2 linked regions of the Homo sapiens genome follow. The protein of the gene in region 1 purifies or fractionates together with the protein of each later gene. This does not show direct contact. Each region holds a gene or a part of one and is shown in the gene's direction. Other genes may lie near its edges.

Region 1 (9,585 bases):
TTCAAGACTAAAGATTATGTAGCTATCATAGTAACTGTAATGTTTGATAGAACTTATTTTGTCTTTCCCTGTGTACCTAACTAGAAGTTCCTGGAGGAGAGAGACAGACTGCATAAGATTAGTCCATCTCCATGGTACACCCAGTACAGAGTTTGACACATAGTAGCTTCTCAATAAATATTTGTATGAGGAAATGAAACTTAATTGAAAAGTATATAAACTTGATAGTCATCATAGGAATGCAAATTTTGAAAACCATTTACAAAAATAACAATTTTAAATTTTTATAATGATCTGGGTGTGGTGGCTCCCAGAGCCTGTAATCTCATTTGGGAGGCCAAGGTGGGAGGATTTCTTGAAGCCAGGAGTTCAAGATCAGCCTGGGCAACATAGGGAGACCCTGGCTCTACAAAAAAAAAAAATAATAAAAGTAACAAAATTATCTAGGCATAGTGGCATGTGTCTGTAGTTCTAGTTACTGGGGAGACTGAGTCAGGAGGCTCGCTTGAGCCAAAGAGTTCGGGAAGAGATCAGGAAGATGGCTTGAGCCAAGGCTGCAGTGGGTTATGATCATACCACTGCGTTCCAGCCTAGGTGACAAAGGGAGACCCTGTCTCTAAAACAAATAAAATAAATAAAAATGAAATAAAATTTTTATAATGTAGGTGAAGTTGCAGGATAATTGGTATGTGTGTCTACATTTATGTATACTGAAATTGCTATGTAAGTATGTGCAGCGTTGTCAAGGATGAATGCTTCATGAAGATGCACAAATATTAATACTGTTTGACTTTTAAACAAATCATTGGGGAAGAAATATACATGGAAATGCTTATTGTTATTTCACTTATAATGTTGAAGAAGTAGCAGTGGCTATGGCGGTAAAGAGAGATTTAAGTAGAATATAGACCCGTCAATTCAGTTGAACTTAGAAGTCTTTAAGTTTGTGTAGCAGTTTGGAAAAGAGTTTGTGAGAAAATGTGTGGCTATGCAGGGGTACGGATTGAGGAAGAAAACAAAGCTATGTTTACATAATGATTATATCTACATATAATTAGGTATACACAGGGATAAATATTGAAGAGGAATATATATGAAGGGTAGCAAATCCAAATATATTGAGAAGAGCTGGTGAGATTTTTTCTCTGCCTTCTTGTTATCAGAGATAAAGTAACTTTAAAAATGTTCTCTTTTGTTTCCTTAGGGCAAAGCTGTTGGGGTGACTATTGGCTGCATTCTAGGAATGTTTCCTTTAATTTTCTTTGGAGGAGGTGAAGAAGATGAAAAACTGGAAACGAAAAGTTAATCCTCTTAGAATACCTATAAAAAGATGTAAACTAATGTACCTCAGTAATTAAATATGCTGTCACAACATTTAGGAATTAAGACAGTAACAGTATAGATATGGGATCAAATAATTTAGCATGTATTATGGAAAACACTAACTTATTGTGGCTTGATCTTCTTAGGACATCTTTTTTAAAAAGCTGTTTAGTATCATTTTGTGTATATTGTTGAAATGCTTTTTCATCAATAGCAGTCAACATTTTATCCTTTCTTTTTATATTCATAATGTTATTTAAGTGTCATTGATGTACTGTATTGACTTGGGGTTTGCTTATTTGTTACTTAACATGTGTACATGCATGAAAGCATTTTTCGTTGTTCCCTGATAGTTACATTTCAACCTTGGGATTTTTCCAAATTACTTAAGATGTTTAATGTCAGTTAAAGATTTTTTTACCCTCTTTTTGGGAACATCAATTTTGTACTGTTATGCAGTAAACATTTATAATAATATAATTTCAGTCATTTCTTAACTGTCACATCTATTGAAAATGGATATAGATACAGGTTTTAAGTATTTTAAGTATATATTACTTATTTTAATTTTCTGACTTTACTATTTTAAGGGCCAGAGGGTTAATCACAAAGAGCAATTATGTGGTCTCCCTGCTACATGAAACCGTGTATACTAACAAGCGTACAATTTTTAGTTGATTTTTTTTAACCTTTTAGTTTCCCAGTTTTGAATAATTACATGGTGGATTCTGACTTTTGAGGGGAAGCAAATGATTATTTTAGAGTCTTTGAAATGGGGATTGTGGAATTAGATTGAACTAAGGGATTTAACATGATGCTTGGAAATTAAGAGACTAAAGCTTTTTTTAAAAAAAGGTGGAAAATAGGAACTGTCAAGAAGGTTTATGGTATAAATGATGAAGTTGAAGTGATGTTTGAAAGATTAATGAGATACAATTTATATTATTTGGTAAGGTTTTTTTTTTTCCCTCCAAAGATGTCATCTTCTCATCTGAATGGAATAAGTCTGAATACCCCATATTCATACTCCTAATCTCATTATATCTTATTTAGTGAATTTTATTTATGAATAATTTCTGTTGAAGTGAAAACTAGATATTTAATATTTTGCTTTTTTGCTACATAGTCTACTCAAAAATTACATGAGGAGAAATCCTTTTTCCCTTTGTTTTTCTTTTTTCTTCTTTTGTGGTATTTAAAGCATATTTTAGGTTGAAGTTACTTATTTCTAGTCTTGTACTTCTGGCTTAAGTATAACCATGTAAGAATTATAAATTTTAGTTTTCTGAACCCTTAAACTTTTTTAGCATGTGGTCTGTTACACATGCTAAAAAATTAGTCTTACTTGTAACAGCGTAATTAAACACATCATGGAGGAGAGAAACTTAAAATTAAAATAGTATTTTGGCTTTTGAAGTTATTTGTGTTGCTAAATAGATGCAGAGGTTTTACAGCAGTTTATTTTAAGGTTTTATTTATACATAATTACTTTGAACTCTTCAGAGTAGATATTTTTTCACAAGGCAGTTTGTCATAAATTCTCTCATGCGCTTCAGAATGCATAAGTGCCATCCTTTAATCATAGACTTTGAGGAGAGAAAGCATAAAAATATAGCATATAATCTAAAAATAAATATATAACATGCACAAATAATGTGACATTCTTACTGAATCAAATCATGATTCTAGAACTTGAGATCTTAAATAGAATTTCGGTTTGTATCTTCCATATAATAACCACACACAGATAACCACACAAAAAATCCTTTGTAAAATTTCTGATTGATAGGATTAGAGTGCTTAAATTTTTGGGGGGGGAAGGGTGGGGTAAAGTGTAAGTGCTTTCTTTTGTCCCTAACTTGTGTATTGATGGCAGTCCACTCTGTTTTCTAAAAATGTATTTTACTGTGGTGCTTAACTTCTTATTAATTAAATCCCGTATCAGAAACCTTGCCTGTGACTTTAGAAAGGGCTTTTGATTATTGTTTTTTCTTCTTGCTCTTGAAAGTAATCTGGTCCCAGGGAATTACTGGTTTAACTGAACATCTCCAGAATTATTTAAGGTGTCAAAATATATAACCTTCACATTGAAAGATAATTTTAATTTATGGGCATAATAAAAATTTGAATCATTCAGGTAATTTTCAAAAAATGGAGACCATTTGTCTTTAACTGAAGGTATATGTTTAAGATCATAGTCTACCCTAGTATGGTGCTTTGCCACAAAGTGATTTCTGAAGAATGGTTCTTTTTAAGATAATGACTTCATATGATCATTGTTTCATGTTACTTGCCACAAATAACTTTAATTTAGGTTGAAACTGGAACTGTTTGTTTCTCATATTAGCTACTTCTCTATTAGGAGCACAAGAACCATAGTTAAATGCAACATGAGCTACTTTAGTCCTGTTTGTTTAAATTTGTGTTGTCCATGTATTATGATTTATTAACTTGTTGATGCATGTAAATTGGGTGCATTTTGTTGCCATGTATGTTAAATGGTGACCAATGTTTTTACAAAGGAATTGAACAAAAAAAGTATCTTTTAAGAAATTTGGAATGTGGTTTTGATTTTGAAATTTGATTTCTTACTAATCTCAGAGGGCCTTGGTATATTCTGTTACTAAAGCAAACAGGATTAATGAATACGGATTTGTTACAAGGTGGCAGCAATGTCACTGAGATAGTGAATGGAACAATTTACCACCTCCCTGGAATCTGCACCTGAGATACAACATCAGCGTATGAGTGAAGAGTGAGCCCATAGAAAAGCTTTAGATAGACTCACATAAGTCACACTGATGGGTATTTACAGCAGATATATCCAAGCTGTTTATGTAATAGTCTCATTTACTTTATTCTTTTTCTCTAGAACATAAATTTTGAAGGTAATGGAAGTTTATCTTTTATACCAAAAGTTTGTATGAGCCATTTTGAAGTAAATCTTTCTAATTTTAGAATTATATTTTCTCGCCATCTTAAGACAGTATATTAAATATAATATAACCTTTTTCTTAGTGGCTAAGCATTATCTTTATGTATATTATTATTGTGTGGTAATGCAGTACCTTGAGAATCTAGTTTTTATAGTTTTCATTTTTTTTTCTGATCTTGCTTCTGGCAACTTTTATCTCTCTAATCTGCTTTTTTTCTCAGTTGTCTGGACTTAGAAACTGGTTAGCCTATCTTACCATAAATTATTTGGGAAATACTAAAAAATTGGCTTTGGATCCTGACTGAGATGATGATGATGATAGTAGTAGTAGTAATAATAATAGTTCCCTTTTATTAAACACTTATTTGGTCCTTTATGCACTAGTAATTTACACACATTATTGCATTTAATCACCTTAATGACAACATTAAGTTGGGGCTATTATCATTATCATCTCTATTTTCTCATAGCTAAATTGAGGCATGAAGAGGTTAGTTTGCCACTACGAATAAGTGGACTGGAATCCTATTTTGTCCAAGTATGAAGCCTGTCTTCTTAACTGCTAGGCAGTAGGGACATCAGTTGCATGGGCTTTGCAATGTCTGCTCTCTGCCTAGGTTCCTTTTTACCTCCAGATTCATGGAGTCATTTTCTTATCTATAATTTAAGAATATTGTGCTTACAATCCAAGATTCATTTAAGAAATCTTGTGTTCTTTATTACATACTATGTGCTAGGATGTTCAAGGCACTGAGTGAACAACCAGAACATCTGTACCCTCATGAAGCTTATTCTTTTGGGGTGGGTAGTAATAGGGGAAGAGAACACAGAAAAGCAAATATACTTTTTTTTGAGATGGAGTCTTGATGTCACCCAGGCTGGAGTGCAGTGGCGTGATCTTGGCTTATTGCAACCTCTGCTTCCTGGGTTCAAGTGATTCTCCTGCCTCAGCCTCCTGAGTAGCTGGGATTACAGTCACGTGCCACCGAGCCTAATTTTTTTGTATTTTTAGTAGAAACGGGGTTTCACCATGTTGGCCAGGCTGGCCTCAGACTCCTGACCTCCTGAGTAGCTGGGATTACAGGCACGTGCCACCGAGCCTAATTTTTTTGTATTTTTAGTAGAAACGGGGTTTCACCATGTTGGCCAGGCTGGCCTCAGACTCCTGACCTCAGGTGGTCCACCTGTCTCGGCCTCCCAAAGTGCTGGGATTACAGGCGTGAGCCCCTGCGCCCACCTGCAAATATACACTTAAATATTGTTTATGTCAGATGGTGGTAAGTTCTATAGAGATAAATGAAACAAGATAAAGAGGATAGAAAGTACCAGTGGTCATAAGTGAAGATGGTCAGTGAAGACCTGAAGGAAGCGAAGGTACAAACAGTACAGATATTCTGTGAAGAGAAAGTATCATGCTAGGTACTAGAAAGTTGGTGTTAAGAAAATCTCAGATATGTGAAATATGTTTCACTTTGGAATTCATTGTAAAATGTTTTCTTTTTGTTTCATATTACTAATAACTGCATTAAGCCTAAAGAGTAACAGTTAAATATTAAGATTAATACTTACTTCTTGCATGTTTACTGACAGCAGTAGGTGAAAATGGCACAGAAGTGTGGGGAAGCAACCCTAGAATTCAAAAAAGTCTGTAGATATTCCCATCAGCAAATCATTTACAGTTGACTCTTGAACAATGGAGGGATTAGGGACACCAACCCCCTGTGCTGCTGAAAATCTGAATACAACTTTTTACTCTCTCCAAACTTTACTTATAGCCTCCTATTGGCTGGAAGCCTTTCTGATAAATAAGCAGTAGATTAACACGTATTTTGTATGTTATATGTATCATATATTGTATTAAAATAAAGGTAGAAGAAAGAAAATGTTATTAAAATCATCAGGAAGAGAAAATACATTTACTATTCATTAAGTGGATCATGATAAAAGTCTTCATCCTCCTTGTCTTCATGTTGAGTAGGCTGAGGTGGAGGAGGAAGAGGAAGGATTGGTCTTGCTCTTAGTGGTAGCAGAGGTGCAAGGGGAAGCAGGAAAGGCAGGCACACTACGTGTAATTATGAAAATGCATTGTAACTTCTGTCTGATGTTTTGCTTTTTTTCATTTCTCAAAATATTTCTATATATGGTATTAATCCTTCTTCCACCATTTGCTTTAGTTTTAGTGCCTGTGTGATAGAAGGGTTCATGTTGTAAAATCAGTCTTGAATAATCAGAACACTTCTACCAGATTGTCTAATGTTGATTTGTTTTCTGGCACTGCTTCTAAATGTCTTCCTCCTCATTCTGTGGCACTGATTCAGAGGCACTCATCTCCAAAAGCTAAGCTTTTGAATTGCTTAGCTTTTGATTCACTCCAGGATTCAGATCTTGAAACTTTCTACCCTCCACCATTTATTTATTTATTTAATTTGACATATCTACAACCTCTTTCATGATTTTCTTGATTGGCTCTGTTGTAAATTCTGCGAAGTCACACACAACATCTGGTTGTTTTCCTCAGCAGGAATTTATTGTTTTGGGCTTGATGGCTTTCATGTCTTCTGTAGCAACAATGGCATCATCAGTGGTGGAATCCTTCCAGACTTTGATGATGTTCTCTTTGTTAGAGTTCTCTTGCATGGCACTGATGGTTCTTTGCATAGAGTACTGTGTGTAATGAGCCTATAGGTCCTTATGACTCCCTGATCTAGAAACTAAATTAGAGACATTGTGTTTGGGGGCAAATAGATCACTTCGATGCCTTTAGTATTGAACTCATGGAGTTCTGGGTGGGTGGCCAGGGGCATTGTCCAGTATCAAAACAACTTTAAAAGGCAGTCCTTTACTGGCAAGGTACTTCCTGACTTCAAAGACAAAACAGCAATGGAGCCAATCCAGAAAAAGGGTTCTTGTCGTCCAGGCCTTCTTGTTATACTGCCAGAAGACTGGCAGCTGGTGTTTATCTTTTCCCTTCAAGACTTGGGAGTTAACAGCTTTATAGATAAGTGCAGTCTTGATCATAAACCCAACAGCATTTGCAAAAACCCATAGCATTAGCCTGTCCCTTTCTGCCTTAAACCCTGGTGCTCACTTCTCTTCTTTACTAATAAATGTTCTTTGTGGCATATTATTATTTTTCCATAATAGGGCACTTCTGTCTGCCTTAAGAACCTGTTTTGGTAGATATGCTTTCTCCTCAATGATTTTCTTAATGGCATCTGGGAACTCATTTGCTGCCTCTTGGTCATCAGGAGCTGCCTCTTCTGTTATCTTAACATTTTTAAAGCCAAACTTCTTTCTAATATTATCAAGCCATCCTTTGCTGGCATTAAATTCTCTAGATTTAGATCCTTCACCTTCCTTTTGCTTTAAATTGTCATATAATGACCGCCTTTTCTCCAATCATATTAGAGCCTATAGGTACGTCTTTCTTGTAGCAATACTGCACCCACATAAAAGTTGCATTTTTAATACGAGATAAAAAGGTATATCACAAAAAGTGTAAGGTTTGCTGGTATAGATGCAGTAATGGCTTCATAAATTTTCTTAATTTTTTTTAACAGTGGTCCTTATGCTGGATTCATTTATCTTGAAGGATGGGCAACTACAGCTGCAGACCAGTACACATCAAGCAATTTAACTTTTTCTTGTAATGTCATGACTTTGCTCCTTGGGAGCACTTCCAGCGTCACTAGCGGGACTTCATATGGGTCCCTTGGTATTATTGCAAGGTTTATGGTTGTACTAAACATGATGAAAAATAACTGAGAACCATGAGAGATCACTTTTTACTACGATACACAATTTACTGGAGAGATGAACTGCCCATGTGGAGATGATAAACATCACATGGCATTTTAAGTGAATACAGCACTTGAGCTCACAGCAACAGCAACAGGAGGTAGCTCTGAAATTATGGTAGTAGTGCAGTATGTACTATAGTTAATCTTATCCAGTTGTAATTTAGTACTGCATCTTTATGTTTGTCTCAACTGCAAATGGCTCCAATGTATAGTCTGTGTATGCGTTAAGTTTTGATAAATTTTAACTTTTTTTTTTTTTGAGATGGAGTCTTGCTCTGTTGTCCAGGCTGGAGTGCAGTGGCACCATGCCGGCTCACTGCAACCTCTGTCTTCTGGGTTCAAGTGATTCTCCTGCCTCAGCCTCCCAAGTAGTTGGGATTACAGGCATGCATCCCCATGCCCAGCTAATTTTTGTATTTTTAGGAGAAACAGGGTTTCACCATGTTGGCCAGGCTGCTCTTGAACTCCTGACCTCAGGTGATCCGCCTGCCTCGGCCTCCTGAAGTGTTGGGATTACAGGCGTGAGCCACTGCGCCCGGCCAATTTTAACTTTTCATAATAGATTTGTATATATTTATGGTAGTAAATGATAAAATAGACTAGTGTCTACATATATTATATGAATTCATGACACACCTTTTTCTTAGTTTTTCAGTATTTCTAAGCTACATGGTGCATCTGCAAGTTTTTTAAATTGTTGCAAATTTCCAAAAAAATTTTCAATATATTTATCAAAATATGCATATAAGCGGTCCTATGCAGTTCAAACCCGTGTTTGAGAATCAACTTTATGACTTCCAGTGTCATTCTCCACCATTTCTGCAGTTTATCACATTTTGCTTCAGGCAGATTTGGTAAATCTTCAATGATAGTTCTCTAGGCCATTGTTTTGTAACATGATCAAATGCTTAATGGGAAATAGAATATGTATATGTATTCTTTGTCTACCAACTACCAAAGAAACAAATACTCCTCAGTTTGACTTGACTTAGTAAATAAACTTGTGTTGGGTTAATGGAGCTAATGGTTATTTTACTTTCTGCTGAATCTGTTCTCTAACCTTTTGCCCTGAGGATTAATATTAAGTATATTGATGTACAATTTTTAGAATGTGCCTGCCCCCTCTCTTCTTAACGTGACATTGCTTACCTAACTCTGGGCTTAATACTTTTACTATTCTCATATTTTATAAACAGAACAGTTTTGTGGTTATACTTCAAATTCTTTAGATATCATAAATCAATTATTTTAAACGTTTTGGCCTTAAGATCTTAACATTTAAGAACTTAACACTCAAGAACTTAATGCTCTGGAAAAATATTGATGTCCCCAAAGGGTGTTTTCTTTTTCTTGCTTTTAAAAAAGTTTGTATAAATTTAAGGGGTTTAAGTGCAGTTTTGTTACATGAGTATATTGCATAGCGGTGAAGCCTGGGCTTTTAATGTAACCATTACCTGATTAGTCTACATTGTACTCATTAAGTAATTTCTCATCCCTTATATGCCTGCCTTCCACCATCCCACCCTT
Region 2 (5,726 bases), on another chromosome or scaffold:
CACACTAAGGACACAGGTTGTTAGGGCTCCTGGATGAGGGTAAGTGTGTTTATTTTAAACCACGTGCTTTTGGCTATTGAGCTTATGATTTCAAAGGTGAAAGCTTAAGCACGTTATTAGACTTCTCAAGGAGAGTTCCCCTAGATTGGGAGAAAAGTTGACATTGGGTAATATTAAATCTTTCTTTTAAAACCAGGGCTATTTTGTTGTTGTTTACAATTTTAAGAGTCTAGACTGAAAGAGTCATGAAATGCAGCCACCTATCTGACCTCTTCCCCCAACAGTTAGGGAATTCGCTCTGCCCCCAGGCCACCCAACCTTCCCTTGCTCTCCTGAATGGGACCCTGACAATTCCCTGGAATTGTAACCTCTTCCTTACTGCTGAGGCTGAGAAGAGGATCTTTTCTACTTTACTCCATTTAGGGTTTTTCTTTATATCTGTGTAGATTGTGGCTTTTTGTTTTTTCTTTTTAATTTTATTTTAAAACAGGAAGAACAGTTATCTGATATTAAAAATCAAGGAAGCAATATTTGTATTGGTCACAATACGCTCAGACTAAAAGAATTATGCTGTAAGTAGTTGTATTGAAGAATATTTGAAGTGCTTTTAAACTATTTGTTTAAAACTATACCTATTTGTATAACGTGACCAGATCAAATTGATTGTATCTTTGGGTGGCACCAAATATGTTGGTTTCTTGCATGGATTGATTATTCTGAAGCTCATGATTTCTGTGGGTCTCAGGTGCGTGGAAGTTCCCATCTTAGTCCTTAAGACTCTTACCCCAATTGTAAGAGCTGAGGAATTCTGTGATAGCTATTAAGATAAGAGATATTCCTAAGAAGGAATATATTATTACAGAAATTTTCAAACATCAAAAAGGTTTGAAAGAATAATGTAACAAAGCCCCATGTACTTGCTTTAACTATTGTCAACGTATGTCCAATCTTGTTTCAAAGTCAGTCCTGGATGTATCATCCATAAGAAGTCTTCCTGAAGACATTCAAGAGGGAAGTCTTTGCTTTGGAACCCTGATGTGATCACGTTAATCATTGCTTCTATGCCTGTAGCTGAAGGAACCGCCAGCGTTTTCAGTCCTCTAATCCTTCTGCTTCCCTTTTCCAGGGCCCAGTCATATATGCACAGTTAGACCACTCCGGCGGACATCACAGTGACAAGATTAACAAGTCAGAGTCTGTGGTGTATGCGGATATCCGAAAGAATTAAGAGAATACCTAGAACATATCCTCAGCAAGAAACAAAACCAAACTGGACTCTCGTGCAGAAAATGTAGCCCATTACCACATGTAGCCTTGGAGACCCAGGCAAGGACAAGTACACGTGTACTCACAGAGGGAGAGAAAGATGTGTACAAAGGATATGTATAAATATTCTATTTAGTCATCCTGATATGAGGAGCCAGTGTTGCATGATGAAAAGATGGTATGATTCTACATATGTACCCATTGTCTTGCTGTTTTTGTACTTTCTTTTCAGGTCATTTACAATTGGGAGATTTCAGAAACATTCCTTTCACCATCATTTAGAAATGGTTTGCCTTAATGGAGACAATAGCAGATCCTGTAGTATTTCCAGTAGACATGGCCTTTTAATCTAAGGGCTTAAGACTGATTAGTCTTAGCATTTACTGTAGTTGGAGGATGGAGATGCTATGATGGAAGCATACCCAGGGTGGCCTTTAGCACAGTATCAGTACCATTTATTTGTCTGCCGCTTTTAAAAAATACCCATTGGCTATGCCACTTGAAAACAATTTGAGAAGTTTTTTTGAAGTTTTTCTCACTAAAATATGGGGCAATTGTTAGCCTTACATGTTGTGTAGACTTACTTTAAGTTTGCACCCTTGAAATGTGTCATATCAATTTCTGGATTCATAATAGCAAGATTAGCAAAGGATAAATGCCGAAGGTCACTTCATTCTGGACACAGTTGGATCAATACTGATTAAGTAGAAAATCCAAGCTTTGCTTGAGAACTTTTGTAACGTGGAGAGTAAAAAGTATCGGTTTTATTCTTTGCTGATGTCCTTTCTGCTTGAAATAACAGTCACCATACAGCTAAAGGAGAGGAGTTTCTTTCCTTCTAAGTAGGCAGAAATGGTATCATTATGTTGCCGCTCTCCAATCTCCCAGAGCTCGCTCTCTAGAGAATCACCTTCTTTCGCTTTTTTTTTTTTTTTTGAGGTAGAGTCTCACTATGTTGCCCAGACTAGCCTTGAACTCTTGGGCTCAAGTGATTCTCCCTCCTCAGCCTCCCGAGTAGCTGGAACGAACTATAGTTGCACCACTGCAGCTGGCAAGAATCACCTTCTTTATAAAGCGTCAGTCATGCTTCCAGCAAGAGGCAGCATCAGTCATGGCTTTATAACAGCTTCATGGTGCCTCAAAGACTGTTGAGGTTAATGAGAGCCTAGATTAGACAGTTTGGCTGTCCTTCCCTAAAACTTGTTTTCTCCTATTCACTACTCCCCACCGCACTTAAAATCTATGAGTTTTTACTTTTTACTGGGAATGGAAAGTGTGGTGAAGATCATTCAACACTTATGTTGTCATTTCTCCCATTTTCTGAATTTTTTTTTAAATTTCCCCCCTTTTAAAATTGTTCGAAAGCCCACAGTTATGGAAAGAATTACTGTCTAGATGGTCTGCAGAACGTGTTTGGGGTGAGTGGGAGTGAGGGGCAATGTTACTTTTTCTCCCTGTAGTTTGGAGTCCATTATGAGCTGCTGCTTTTTCTTCTCATCTTGTCATCTTCTGGGGATGTTTGAAGGCTGAGTTCCAACAGAATTCACAAAGGGAATAAAACAGGATTGAGATTTTGAGGTGTGCACAAGGTGGTAAGATAAAGGGCATATGAGCTTCAAAACTAATGCTGTTGCATACATGAAGCCTTTTGTTTTTTGAGGAGCTATTTTTGTTATTCTTGTAACGCTCCACCTTACATGCCACATCTGTGTGAGTCAACAGGGATCAGGTTTGGTCACCACACATGTCTGAAGCTGGGCAGCGTCTGCTCTGTGTTCTGTGTGGAATGGAGAAAAAAACGCCTGCCCTGCTGCCTTCCATGTTCATAGGCCCAGCCCAAGAGAGTGACACACAGTGCTGGCCCTGAGACATTTCCACAAAGTGGTCAACTCTGCCTTGCATCCTAAAACTTTTTGGGCATCTATTTTGAAAACTATAGGAGCCTTTGGAAGGCCTCTTATGTTTGGAGGGGAAGGGTGTTGAGATTGTCACCATCCTTCAAGCTGAGACTCCTGGTGAGCCTTTGCCACCATGAAAACCACATAGCTGACCAGGGCTGTGCTTGAGGTACAGAGGACACACATTGTAGACAGGCCTGTGTCATGTTTCCTTACAGTCGTTTTTTACAGAGAAAAGGGGCATTGTTTTTTCACTGCTTTCTCAACAGTTCCTGTGAATAAATGAAACATTTCGGAGCTCCCTGAGAGCAAGAGCCTTCACTTCTTCTTGCGGTGCCGGGACCATGTGTTGGTGAAGCTGGTGCTGTGGGGGCCACTCACTCGAATGACACCTGGAGGCCTGTTCCTCCCTTACCACTCCCTTCCCCAGCCCGACTTCTTGGCCTCCTGCCCAACCAGACACCTCAAACTCTGTCAGTGCCCTGGCATTCTGGCAGAGAATCCTCACCAGTTCTCACCAACCTTCCCCCCAGGCAAGGGCAGCTGCCAGCATGGTGCTCTGCCAGGACAGGTTTCCCTGAAGGAAGCTGCTCACACTGAGATGAGCCTCTCAGGGCAGGACCTCTTCCCAAGCCCTGCACACCCACCCCTGCAGCCCTTTTGGCTCCCCTTTTCCCTGTGCCTCAGCACTCCTTTCCTGGTTGCAGATAACGAACTAAGGTTGCCTAAAGGGCAGATCTGCCCTCTCCATGTCTTCGTCCTGGCAAACAGGGTCGTCTTAAAATTATGCGCTAATTCTGTATGGGAGCACTCAAAAGGCATTACTTAGAGATTGAAATTTCAAACTATCTCTAGTTTTTCAATGGAAATATATCAGCTAGGGAAAAACCATCAAGCTCATTATTATTTTTTGATCTTCAGTTGTATTTTTGTGAATATTTTAATACATCTTTTTCAATTTCTGAATTGTGTTGTGTGCTCATTTTGACCAGAATAGAAAAAGAGATATGCCTTTCACTCATATCATTCCAGCTACACCTGCCTTCTTTTCTTCAAAAATGCCGTCCGTGTGCCTGCTTCTGGGCCTTTGCACATGCTGTTCCCTGGGCCTGAAGCATGCCTTCTGCCAATATTCCTGTGGTTTGCTCTCTGACTTCCTTTAAGCCTCTGCTCAAATGTTACCTCCTCAGGGAGACCTTCTGTGATATATAAAAGAGCAAGCCCCCCACCCCACCGCCTCAGCCTTCCTGGCCCCCTCAGTTCTGCTCTAGTTACTCTATTTCTCTCCCTCTTTCCCAGTACACACTTGTCTGTTCTCCCGCATTAGAACATAGTTAACAAGAGACCAGAACCTTGCTGTTTTGTTCACTGCTCCGTCTGCAGTAAAGGGAACAGCACCTGGCACTTAGCTGCTCAATACATGTTACGTGGATGGATGAGTAGGTGGAAGCATTCATCCATTCAGCAACCTACACTGAGAACAATCCTGTGCCAAGCACTGTGCTAAGCATAAGGAAACAAAACAAGACAAAGCTCCTCAAGGAGCTTGCCACAGGGTGGAGGTGACAGGTGACATGAATGGAAGTAACTAGTAGTTACCAAATACTTGGTGTGAGCCAGGCACTTTGCATTTCTTTCTCTATTATTTCTGTGAGTTAACAGTAATTGTACTAATCTTAATCCCATTGTTTGAAAGATTATATGGCTTACCCAGGGCCACTTAGCTAATAAAGGAACAGAGAAGAGGGGCTGGGCCTGGGGCCGCTGTTTGATCCACAGCCTTGTTCCTAACCACTATGCCCTGTGGCCTCTCACACCAAAAGGAAGTACCAAACTGCTTCCTTACTCAAATAAATGTGCTGAAATGCAGTTGCAGTTTTCTCCCAGTCCCTTAGGAGCTGGTTAGAGAGTCCCTTAGGAACTTGAGAGGGTAGTGTAGTCTAGGTGGTAGGCACAGATGTCTGAGAGCTTTAACCTCAGTCTGGAAGACAATGTGGTGACTTAATTTGTTGAGAACTATGTTACAAATAATGTGTTACTAATAAAACATTGAGGCTTCGCAGTGACTTAGTAATTTTATAAATTACCATGGATTCACAATGAGCCCCTGCCTTGCATAACTTTGGGCTTGCAAAACCTAATGCGTTCTTGAGTGGGAGAAGATGAGTTACAGCTGGCAGGAACTCCCCTGGGAGTAATTCTCACATGTGAACAGCATCCATCTTGCGTGATGTGACAAAAAGAAAAGGGATGCTTCCTTCACCACACAAGGGCAGCAGTGAGTGATGGAATCACATTTTTGTCATCTCTGCAATTCCTTCCAAGTCAGCACTAAGTGTCGGAGGGCATCCACCTGCTGGGGCTCTGGTTTCCAAGCTACATAGGGGCCTTGCCAACCAAAGATGGACTTTTTATTTATGAGAGCAGCTTCCACCCCTGAGGGAGCTGAGTTGAGCAGTGTTTAGAGGAAACTCAGATACTCTCTCACCCCAGTTGGCTCCCTTCTGACCCCTCTGGGTAGTTCCTGTGCTAACTGGACTGGGGAACCACTGACTTCATCCT

Evidence for each region. Proteins that work in one complex are often made in the same cells at the same time.
Region 2: the proteins of TMEM65 (region 1) and MPZL1 purify together in Homo sapiens (affinity purification with mass spectrometry; 2 studies listed by BioGRID and IntAct, with this or other methods). This does not show direct contact.

What each region holds. Positions count from the first base shown.
Region 1 is NC_000008.11:124,305,681-124,315,265, reverse strand, and holds the end of TMEM65 (transmembrane protein 65), read left to right. Parts: intron 1-1,204; coding exon 1,205-1,306; 3' UTR 1,307-9,077; downstream 9,078-9,585. UniProt on the Homo sapiens protein: Essential for maintaining proper cardiac intercalated disk (ICD) structure and function as well as cardiac conduction velocity in the heart.
Region 2 is NC_000001.11:167,786,694-167,792,419, forward strand, and holds the end of MPZL1 (myelin protein zero-like protein 1 isoform a precursor), read left to right. Parts: intron 1-1,126; coding exon 1,127-1,228; 3' UTR 1,229-5,226; downstream 5,227-5,726. UniProt on the Homo sapiens protein: Cell surface receptor, which is involved in signal transduction processes. Recruits PTPN11/SHP-2 to the cell membrane and is a putative substrate of PTPN11/SHP-2.